Homo sapiens: one gene and its partners. The protein of the gene in region 1 interacts with the protein of each later gene in a pairwise test. Each region holds a gene or a part of one and is shown in the gene's direction. Other genes may lie near its edges.

The links.
Region 2: the proteins of STMN4 (region 1) and SEC22A interact in binary tests that used the Homo sapiens proteins (3 or more experiments, as listed by UniProt).
Region 3: the proteins of STMN4 (region 1) and STX8 interact in binary tests that used the Homo sapiens proteins (3 or more experiments, as listed by UniProt).

Annotation. Positions count from the first base shown.
Region 1 is NC_000008.11:27,234,723-27,238,176, reverse strand, and holds the end of STMN4 (stathmin-4), read left to right. Parts: intron 1-1,271; coding exon 1,272-1,331; 3' UTR 1,332-2,869; downstream 2,870-3,454. UniProt on the Homo sapiens protein: Exhibits microtubule-destabilizing activity.
Region 2 is NC_000003.12:123,222,443-123,226,097, forward strand, and holds part of SEC22A (vesicle-trafficking protein SEC22a), read left to right. Parts: intron 1-1,116; coding exon 1,117-1,280; intron 1,281-2,660; coding exon 2,661-2,855; intron 2,856-3,655. UniProt on the Homo sapiens protein: May be involved in vesicle transport between the ER and the Golgi complex.
Region 3 is NC_000017.11:9,502,731-9,506,385, reverse strand, and holds part of STX8 (syntaxin-8), read left to right. Parts: intron 1-1,223; coding exon 1,224-1,348; intron 1,349-3,655. UniProt on the Homo sapiens protein: Vesicle trafficking protein that functions in the early secretory pathway, possibly by mediating retrograde transport from cis-Golgi membranes to the ER.

The DNA of each region.
Region 1 (3,454 bases):
TCCTGGCTGTCTAGGGATGGTGCTTCCTAGGTCATGCTGATACATACCAAAGTTTGGGAACCCCTGCCCTGTGCACACCACTCCTCACTCCTAGGCCACAGAAAGTTCTAGGGTGTCTGCAGGGACAGATTCGTAGTTTATAGTTTATCCTGAAAACCTGGGGGCCTCCGTGGGTCTACTTCAGGCTGATTCTGTCATCTGGATGTGACAGTGCCAGGCTCTGGGAGGGACAACATTGGTTGAGTGCTTGCCATGTGTAAGGCACCATAGTAGAAAAGATAATGTGGTCCCTACCCACAGGAAAGTCACCGTCTAATAGAGAACTGTCTAATAGAGAATCTGCACAGTGAGCAGGTGAACACTAAACATCACAACTTGAGGGGTGAAAGACCACCTGTCTATGCCCTTCTCTTTAAAGATCAGAGAACTGAGGCCTGGTTGGAGAAGTGAGCCAGCCAAGATCCTCCTGCAGATGGGCCTTGGAAGGCAGATGCTATCTTTTGGCTGCACTACCCTGTGAAATAAAAGAAGGTTCTCTTATAATAGGTGTAAGAAAGTCCACTTTTTGGAGTTGGGCAACATTTTCAAAATTCTTCTGTCGATTTGCACTTTAAGAGTCCACACCTGGGCACGGTGGCTCACATCTGTAATCCCAGCACGTTGGGAGACAGAGGTGGGAGGGTCATTTGAGGCCAGGAGTTAGAGGACAGCCTGGGCAACATAGCAAGATCCCATCTCTATTTTTGTTTAAATAATAACAAAGGAAAATCAAAGAATCCTCATCTTTCACCAAGAGGGTTAAGGCAATTCTCACAAAGGAGATGGATGAGAACTAGAAGCAGCAGGCAGGTGCATGTGATTTGTAGGGGATGCTTGTAGTGAGGCCTGTCTGTTCTGCCTGCTCCTCTGGCACAAATTACCCCCAGCAGCTCCTTATATTAAGTCAAGCCATATGATCTAATCCAAACCACAGAATGGCCAGGTGAGGGAGGGGGAGGCTGCGTGGCCCATGGTCACTGTAAGGTGGGCCCCTGCTGCAGTTTGACACCCACAGGACCCTGAGCTCCCTGGGGCAGCACCAGTAGGCTTGCCCCCTGCCTCCTGCCAGCCTCACCTGCCACCTTCTGCCCCTCTCGGGATGCCTTTGCAGACAGAGCTCTTCGCTGCCTGTGGTGGCCACTCTTTGCTTTTGGTTCTCTTGCCCCTTGGCCTCCCTTTTTGTCCCCGGGCAGCCTTGTGTGACCTGCCCTTTTCCCTCCCTTCCTTTCCAGGACAAGCACGCCGAGGAGGTGCGGAAAAACAAGGAGCTGAAGGAAGAGGCCTCCAGGTAAAGCCTAGAGGCCAAAGAACTTTCCAGGTCAGCCGGACAGCTCCAGCAGCTCCACGTTCCAGGCAGCCTCGCCCGCCGGCTGCGCTCCCAGCACTGGGGTTTGGGGGGAGGGGGGTGGCCAAGGGGCGTTTCCTCTGCTTTTGGTGTTTGTACATGTTAAGAATTGACCAGTGAAGCCATCCTATTTGTTTCCGGGGAACAATGACGGGGTGGGAGAGGGGAGAGGAGAGAGTTTGGGAAAGGGAGATGGAGAAGAACTCAAGGACATTGCAACCCTGCCCGGCGCAGATCTGATTTTCACATCTCTACCTGGACATTGAGCCTCCAGGCACCATGTTGAGGAGAGATGAAAACCAGGGCGGTAGAACTTCAGGGTGAAGGACAGAGTCCTGGGTGGGGCAGCGGCTGCAGGGCGCACCAGAGAACCCAGCCAGAGGGGTTGTGAGTACCAGTGGTGTTGCTTCCACCCTGCAGCAGGTGGGATGAGGTCTGTGTGTGTGTGTGAACCATCATTTTTTGATCATCATGACCAATGAAACATTGACTCCAAGTGTCCAGTTCTTTATTTCCCAAATGTGTCCTTTGGGTAATTGTTAAAAAGTTCTCGAAACCTGGCTTTCATCCATCTGATGGCAGATGCCCCTTTGCTTCCTTAATTCTGCCATTCAAGCATCTGGAGCCTGGGTGAGGTGGGTTGAATCAGGCCAGCCTTTGGCATAATTGAAAGGTTTTCTCTTCTGTTTTTTAAAATCCCCTCTGTGGGCTAATCTTTATTGGATAGCATGCACTAAATTGATGAGAAAAGAAACTCAATCTTCCTTTCAATGAACTGACATCCTAATATGGTCCCCAAGATGCACTGTAAGAAGGAATTTGTCTTAGTCACAACCGTTCAGACTGCTGTAACAAAATACCTTAGACTAAGTAATTGATAACAGAAATTGATTGCTCACAGTTTTGGAGGCTGGGAAGTCCAATATCAAGGTGCCAGCAGATTCAGTGTCTGGTGAGGGCTTGCCATCTGCTTCAAAGATGATGCCTTTTTGCTGCATCCTCACATGGCAGAAGGGAAGGGCAAAAGGGCTTCCTTGAGCCTTTTCTTTAAGGCACTAATCCCATTCATGAAGGTGGAGTCCTCATGATCTCACCTCTTAAGGCCCTATCTCTTAATTCTGTAGTGTCGGGATTAGGATTCAACCTGTATATTGGGGGAGACAGCAACATTCACACCATAGCAGAAGTCCTCCATGCTTTGGGGGTTTGAGATTCTAGGTAGATTAGAAAATACGAGCAAGGAAATAAAGTGTTTGCTAGTAGAAGGCAAAGGAGGCATCCAGACCCAGCAGTCTTGGTCTCCAGGACACTGAACCATGGCTGGAAAAGAAGCTCTCCTCCTCCCTTCCCCTGCAAACATGAGTGCAGGGGCTGCCTGTGTTAACCGGGTCCCAGGACCTCTTCCCACTCTGCTCTGCACACTGTGTAGTTTTTTACAGCTTTGCAAATAAACCCTTTGGTATAGCCTTTTTTTCTTTCTTCTCACTAGTGGTACTGTAATTTGGCTTTATTTTAAAATAAGATAACAGGAGGATCAAAGATGATGATGATGATGATGATGATGATGATGATGATGATGGCAGCAGCTAACTTAGGCAGCACTTACTAGATGTCCTACACTTTTCTGTACTTTTACATCTATATTATCTCACTTATCTTCACACCACCTGTAGGAGGTAGGTACTCTTATCATCCCATTTTGTAGACAAAAGAATTGAGGTCTAGAAAGGGTAAGTAACTTGGCAAGGTCACACAGGGAGTAAATGGGAGAACAGGGACTTGAATTGGGCGGTTTGCTCCCAGAGTCCATATTCTTAGCCACTGGAGTGTGCTGCTTCTTGACACCTCCAAACTAGCATCTGAGTCCCAGAATAGGGTTTCTCAAGCTGTGAGTGGTGACTCACTGGATCTTGAGATCAACGTAGTGGATCCCACCCAACCTTTCTTTTCTTTTTTAAGTGGATTAGAATAGAAAAACAAAACATCAAAATGGGTGACAGGTGATAATGGAGGCATTATTTCATGGAAATTGTGTTTCAATTTTATATTTTGTGTATATATGTGTTGATC
Region 2 (3,655 bases), on another chromosome or scaffold:
CCCACCTCGGCCTCCCAAAGTGCTGGGATTACAGGCCCCCACCATGCCCGGCCTCTTTAGCTTCTTTTGATTGGCAACATTTCCACATCCTTTATTTCTTTTTTACAACCCTGGCACTTTTAAAGAATACACTTTTTCCTTTTCAAAAATAGAATGTTGATCATTTTGGTGTTTTCTTAATGATTAAATTCAAATTATGCATTCTCAGAATATTATATAGCTGATGTGTCTTTCTCAGGATATAACATCTGGAGACACACAATGTCCATCTAACATGAATGATGTTAGAGAGTACTTGGTGAAGGAGTTACCTAGTTTCTACTGTATAATATTTTCCCCTTGCAACTAAGAAACAATCCATGGAAAGACATTTTAAAACCATGCAAATATACTAACCCGTAAAAATTTCCCCCTAGATTTAACATCCATGATTGTCCTTGCCTGATCCAATCTTTACTATGTTGGTTGCAAAATGCTGATTTTTCCATTGCTAGCACTTCCTCTACGTTTACCAGTCAACACTCAGCATTCTGCTTTAAGCCATAGCCCTCATTTCTCCTTTTGTTTTTTATATAAACTCATAAATTCCCCCCTCCCATGGTTCATAATTAATTACTGTGTAAAGTAGAGGATTTGATTCTGGGGTGTGTCAATGATAACTTCAAGAGGTCAGTGATCACCTTGAAATTGTGTGCAATCTTCTGTGTTCTGGCATCTTTCTAGGGAGAGTGTTCCTGTCATCAGAATCTTGAAAGGGTTCTGGACTCAAAAGTGGAAAACATATTGAAGGGTTAGACTTTAAGCTATCTGTAATACTTACAATACATTTGTATATCCATTCCCCTGCTTTTTACCCCAAGTGATAACTGAAATGTTAGAACCGTATTGTGTGTCCCTCTGTAGTACATTCTATTTTTTGTCTTCTGTTTTTAAACCACAACTTAAAATAGTGCTGTATTTTGGTTCCTTTAAATTTTTTCCTAGAATATATAATAAATGTTAAGATCTTCATTGCCACCGTAGTAGCAGTTTATGGTGTATAGAACCAGTCTTGTGAAGCAGTGAATTACCTTGATTTAATTTGAAATTTTAAAACCAATGTTTTTTACACTGTAGTTTTATTAGCTCTCTGGGAGTGAGCTACATGATGTTGTGCACTGAAAATTACCCAAATGTTCTCGCCTTCTCTTTCCTGGATGAGCTTCAGAAGGAGTTCATTACTACTTATAACATGATGAAGACAAATACTGCTGTCAGACCATACTGTTTCATTGAATTTGGTAAGGGCCTGATTTTTTTTTCCTTTTTATTCTGTCTGCATCCAATCATAAGCAATTTTAAATCTAATATTGGGTGGAGGGGGGACTTCTGCTATCTTGCTTTTGATATAATAATTTGGTAAATGATCTATAAATTATGGTAACTTTTTACTTAGATGCTTATTAGAAAAAAATTGTGTTTGAGCTGTGAAGGGGATTGTGAGTATTGGTCCGAAGAATTAATGCCAGAGGATAACTTCTCAATGAGAAATTTATAAGCCAGAGATTCAGACTTTTGCGTTTCTGTAATAATCTTTTATAGTCTGCTTCATGTAGAATAGGGGATGGCAAACATTTGCTGGAAAGGACCAGATAGTACATATTTTAGACTTTAAGGATCATATAGTCCCTGTCACAACTATTCAGCCCTGCCGTTGTAGCTCGAAAGCAGCCATAGGCAGTACGTAAATGAGTGCAGTTATATTCTAATAAAACTTTACAGAATAGTCAGCAGGCTAGATTTGGCCTGTGGGCAGTAGTTTGCTCAACTTCTGATGTAGAAGAAAAAAAAAAAACACCATGTTGTAAATAGTAAAAATAAAATTCCACTTGGAAAATATTTAGGAAATGTCTTATGTTAGTTTTATTCAATTTATTCTTTAAAACCTACATTCTAATGGTGTAAGCAATAAAAAACAGATTTATAAAAACATGCAACTTCTAGTGTGTGTTCTTATGTAATTGCAGCTGGTAAATCTGACAGATTTAATATTTCATGAGATAGGAATCTCTATAAAAATCAAGACTTTGGGCCAGGTGTGGTGTGGCTCATGCCTTTTATCCCAGCACTTTGGGAGGCCGAGGCAGTAGGATCACTTAAGGCCAGGAGTTCGAGACCACCCTGGGCAACATAGACCCTGTCTGTACAAAAATAAATAAATAAACTGGGCATGGTGGCTCACACCAGTAGCCCCAGCTGCTTGGGAGACTGAGGCAGAAGGATCACTTGAGCACAGGAGTTTGAGGTTACAGTGAGCTATGATTGTACCACTGCACCCCAGTCTAGGTGACAGAGCAAGACCCTGTCTCAAAAAAAAAAATTCAAGACTTTGGTTTAAAGTTAAAGCTGTTTTTTGTTTTTGTAATTTCTTGAAGTGGATGTAATACACTTAGGTAGTGTTAAATCCTTAGTTTATTTAAAATTACTGATTTCTAGAGGGTAAAACTGATGATTCCATGATACATTAATCATTAAACACAAGTAATATTGGACTATTTCATGACGAATTGAACAATTTTGAATAATAAACTACCTGTAATATTTACTATCCATAAACATCATATTCTGAAATGATTAATTGACAAGTGACTGCAAGGAAATTTATTTTTTATTTTACATAGATAACTTCATTCAGAGGACCAAGCAGCGATATAATAATCCCAGGTCTCTTTCAACAAAGATAAATCTTTCTGACATGCAGACGGAAATCAAGCTGAGGCCTCCTTATCAAATTTCCATGTGCGAACTGGGGTCAGCCAATGGAGTCACATCAGCATTTTCTGTTGACTGTAAAGGTGCTGGTAAGATTTCTTCTGGTGAGTTCTGGATCTCAGTTATTTTATTTTAAAAAAATCCTTGGGAAAAACTGAGAAACTCTTGAAAATGAATTACTTTATTCTAATATTTTAAATCAAGTACATGAGAGAATATAGAAGTTCAAAGCAATCCTTTCAGTGATTTATAAAGTAAGCTACCAGATGTGTGACTAATCGGGAAAATACTTTCAAATAGCAACCTCAGAGGATCTCTTTGCTAGAAAAACATTTTTTTAAATTTAAAATTAAAAAAAGTTAATTTTCATGGGTACATATTCGGTGTGTAATATATTTATGGGGTACATGAGATATTTTGATACAGGTATGCAATGTGTAATAATCACATTAGGGTAAATGGGGTATTCATCACCTCAAGCATTTATTATTTCTTTGTGTTATAAACATGTCAGTTGTGCTCTGTTAATTTTTAAATGTACAATAAATTATTGTTGACTGTAGTCACCCTATTGTGGTATCAAGTACTAAATCTTATTCATTTTAGCTAACTATATTATGTACCCATTAACCATCACCCTTTCTCCCACCCCCACTACCCTTCCCATCCTCCAGTAACCAAAATTCTACTCTCTTATCTCCATGAGTTCAGTTGTTTTAAACTTTAGCTCCCACAAATGAGTGAGAATATGTAAACTTTTCTTTTCTGTGTCTAGTTTATTTCAGTTAATAAAATGTCCTCCAGTTCATCCGTGCTGTTGCAAATGATAGGATCTCATTCTTTTTTTATGGCTGAATAATACTCTGTTGTGTATGTGTGCCACATTTTGTTAATCCGTTTGTCT
Region 3 (3,655 bases), on another chromosome or scaffold:
CTAATCAGTCATCTTGCTGATGTCCCACCCATCATTTATTCTATGATTTTTCATGAATCTGTTGAGAGCTCTAAAGATGAGTCTAATGTTCATCTCTTTGTTGAATTGGTCAGAAGGTCGTGTCCTGGACAAGATGATCTTCTCAGCTTGGACAGAATGCAGACAGGTGGGGAGAGGAGAGGAGCTACTTGAGAGGAGAAAAATCCTGAAAACATGGGGACTGAGGTGGAAATCATGTGTTTCCTGTTCCTTAGACAGCGAGACCAACTGGTCTCGTGCAGAAAGGGCACATGGATTATTAGAGGGAGTAAGGTTAAGATTGACAAATCAGAATGTGTTTATTCTGTTATGAATGCTACATTATAGTCACAAAATTGGTATTGAAACCCTGCATGTGTTTCTGTCTCTGAGCAACCAAATACTCCTTTTTTTTTTTTTTTTTTTGAGACAGAGTCTTGCTCCGCTACCCAGGCTGCAGTGCAGTGGCGCCATCTTGGCTCACTGCAACCTCCGCCTCTCAGGTTCAAGCGATTTTCCTGCCTCAGCCTCCCAAGTAGCTGGGATTACAGATGTCTGCCGCCAAGCCCGGCTAATTTTTTTTGTGTTTATTAGAGACAGGGTTTCATCATGTTGGACGGGCTGGTCTGGAACTCCTGACTTCAGGTGATCTGCCCGCCTCAGCCTCCCAGAGGGCTGGGATTACACACATGAGCCACTGCGCCCGGCTCCAAATACCCTTTAATGGGAAATTATATGGTCTTTTTTTAAAACAACAACAACATTGTAATCTGTAGTCGCAACATTGTGTCTGCTTGAGAAATAATATTTGTACCTTTGGGGTCACGTAGCCTCTGAGACAAACTTTGTCCTAATAAAAAGGCCGCTGTTCGGCCTTCTGTTTTTGAAATTTAAGAACCTCATTTATTACCAACTTCTTTTAGGATTATTAACTCAAACATCTCTTGGAGGATTAGTACAAATATTATGTTCTCCCATCATCTCTATAACAGGCTGTAATTCTGAGGACCAAGCTTGTGCCTTATTCATCCTTGTATCTCGTCCAGCACTGAATACAGTTCCTGGCATAAACTAATGATGCAATAAATTGTGTTTGAATTGAATTTTCAAAGCATTCAAGGCTGGCCACCTCTGCACTTGTGGGAGTAATTTGCATTTGAGCTGCATGTTTTGAGATATATCATGCATTTAATATTGTTCTTTAGGTCCAGCCTGATGAGTGAAGAGGCTAAGCGAGGAGCACCCAACCCTTGGCTCTTTGAGGAGCCAGAGGAGACCAGAGGCTTGGGTTTTGATGAAATCCGGCAACAGCAGCAGAAAATTATCCAAGGTACTAAATATCCTGAGGAGTGTGGGCTCAGAAACCTTGCCAGAATTTTTTTTTTTTTTTTTTTGAGACGGAGTCTTGCTATGTCGCCTAGGCTGGAGTGCAGTGGCGTGATCTTGGCTCACTGCAACCTCCACCTCCCGGGTTCAAACGATTCTCCTGCCTCAGCCTCCCGAGAAGCTGGGACTACAGGTGCGTGCCACCATGCCCGGCTAATTTTTTGTATTTTTAGTACAGACAGGGTTTCACCCTGTTAGCCAGGATGGTCTTGATCTCCTGACCTCATGATCTTCCCACCTTGGCCTCCCAAAGTGCTGGGATTACAGGTGTGAGCCACCGTGCCCGGCCACCAGATTTTCTACTGGAGCCTTGTTTGTTCCTCATCCCCATTGAAAATTGGAGTGAAAACTGCTGGTCTTTTAAAGCTTTTGGTGTGTGCCTCAGGATACCTGAGGAATAGACAGTTGCTGTCACTCATCTCGGTGGCTCATGGAAGTGGTGATTTTCCATTGGGCAAGAGCAGAGAGAGCAGATCTGAATCTAAGTCCAAGCAAATTTGATGCTTATGCTCTTTACTTTAGCTTCACGACTGGGAATTAGTCTCCAAACACAAGACTCCATTTTATTTTTTAAATTATAAAATATGTCAGTTTGGCTTTTCTTTTTTATCTTTTGCCCTGTGGCTTTTTAACTTTTTTTTTTTAAACTTTCTTATATTTTTAAAATTTCAGAAGTATGCATGATTGTTATACAAAGTGTAAACAACATAGGAATGTATAAGATGAAAGCCCTCCATATTGTTTCTCCAATCTCAAACTGGAAACAGATTAATATGTATTTCCTTAGACCTTTTGTATACATTCACATACATATATTCAATATAAATATACTTATTTTACATAAATGGAATCATGAGATATTTAGCTCTCTCCATATATATATATAATTCCACACCTTTTTAAAACTTAGTATGTGTCGGCTGGGTGTGGTGGCTCACGCCTGTAATCCCAGCACTTTGGGAGGCTGAGGCAGGAGGATCACCTGAGATCAGGAGTTCGAGACCAGCCTGGCCAACATGGTGAAACGCCGTCTCTACTAAAAATAAAAAATTAGCTGGGTGTGGTGGCACGCACCTGTAGTCCTAGCTACTCAGGAGGCTGAGGCAGGAGAATCGCTTGAACCCAGGAGGCAGAGGTTGCAGTGAGCCGATATAGCATGTCACTGCACTCCAGCCTGTGCAACAGAGTGAGACTCCATCTCAAAGGAAAAAAAAGAAAAAACCACTTAGTATGTGTTATGGACTTTTTAAAATGTCAGTATGTACAGATACATTATTCTTTCTAATTCTGCTTTTTAAAATCAGCTTTATTGCCAGGCCTGGTGGCACATGCCTGTACTCCTGACACTTTGGGAGGCCAAGGCAGCAGGATGGCTTGAGTGTAGGAGTTTGACACCAGCCTAGGCAACATAGTAAAATCCCATCTTTAAAAAAATTAATGAATAAAAAGGAAGAGGGAGGAGGAGGAGGAGAAAATAAATCTAAAGTCAGCTTTATTGAGATGTAGTTGATATGATCATAAATGGCCCATGTTTGAAGTATATGATTTGATAAGCTTTGACATATGTATATGCCTGTGAAACCATCACTGCAATAAAAATAATGAACCTAATTGTTATTCCCAAAAGTTTTCTTCATGCCTCTTTGTAATTCTTCCTATTGTTCCTCCCTGCCATGCCCAGACAACTGCTGAACTTCTTTCTGTCACTATAAATTAGTTTCCATTTTCTATAATTTTATATAAATAGAACTATACAGTATGTACCTTTTGGGGAAGAAGGGGCTCTGGCTTCTTTGTCTAAGCATAATTATTTTAAGATTCATTGAACTGGTTATGTGTATCAGTATTTCACTCTTTTTTTTTTTTTTTTTTTTTTGAGACAGAGTCTGGCTTTGCTGCCTAGACTGGAGTGCAGTGGTACGATCTCAGCTCACCACAACCTCCACCTCCTGGGTTCAAGCAATTCTCCTGCCTCAGCTTCCCGAGTGGCTGGGATTACGGGCGCCCGCCATCATGCCCAGCTAATTTTTTTTGTATTTTTAGTAGAGATGGGGTTTCACCATGCTGGCCAGGCTGGTCTCGAACTCCTGACCTCAAGCGATCCACTCGACTCGGCCTCCCAAAGTGCTGGGATTACAGGCATGAGCCACCGCGCCCGGCCTGCATTTCACTCTTATATTATAGATTTGTATTCCATTGTATGGATTTACCACAATCTGTGTATCCATTCACCTGTTGATTAATATTTGGG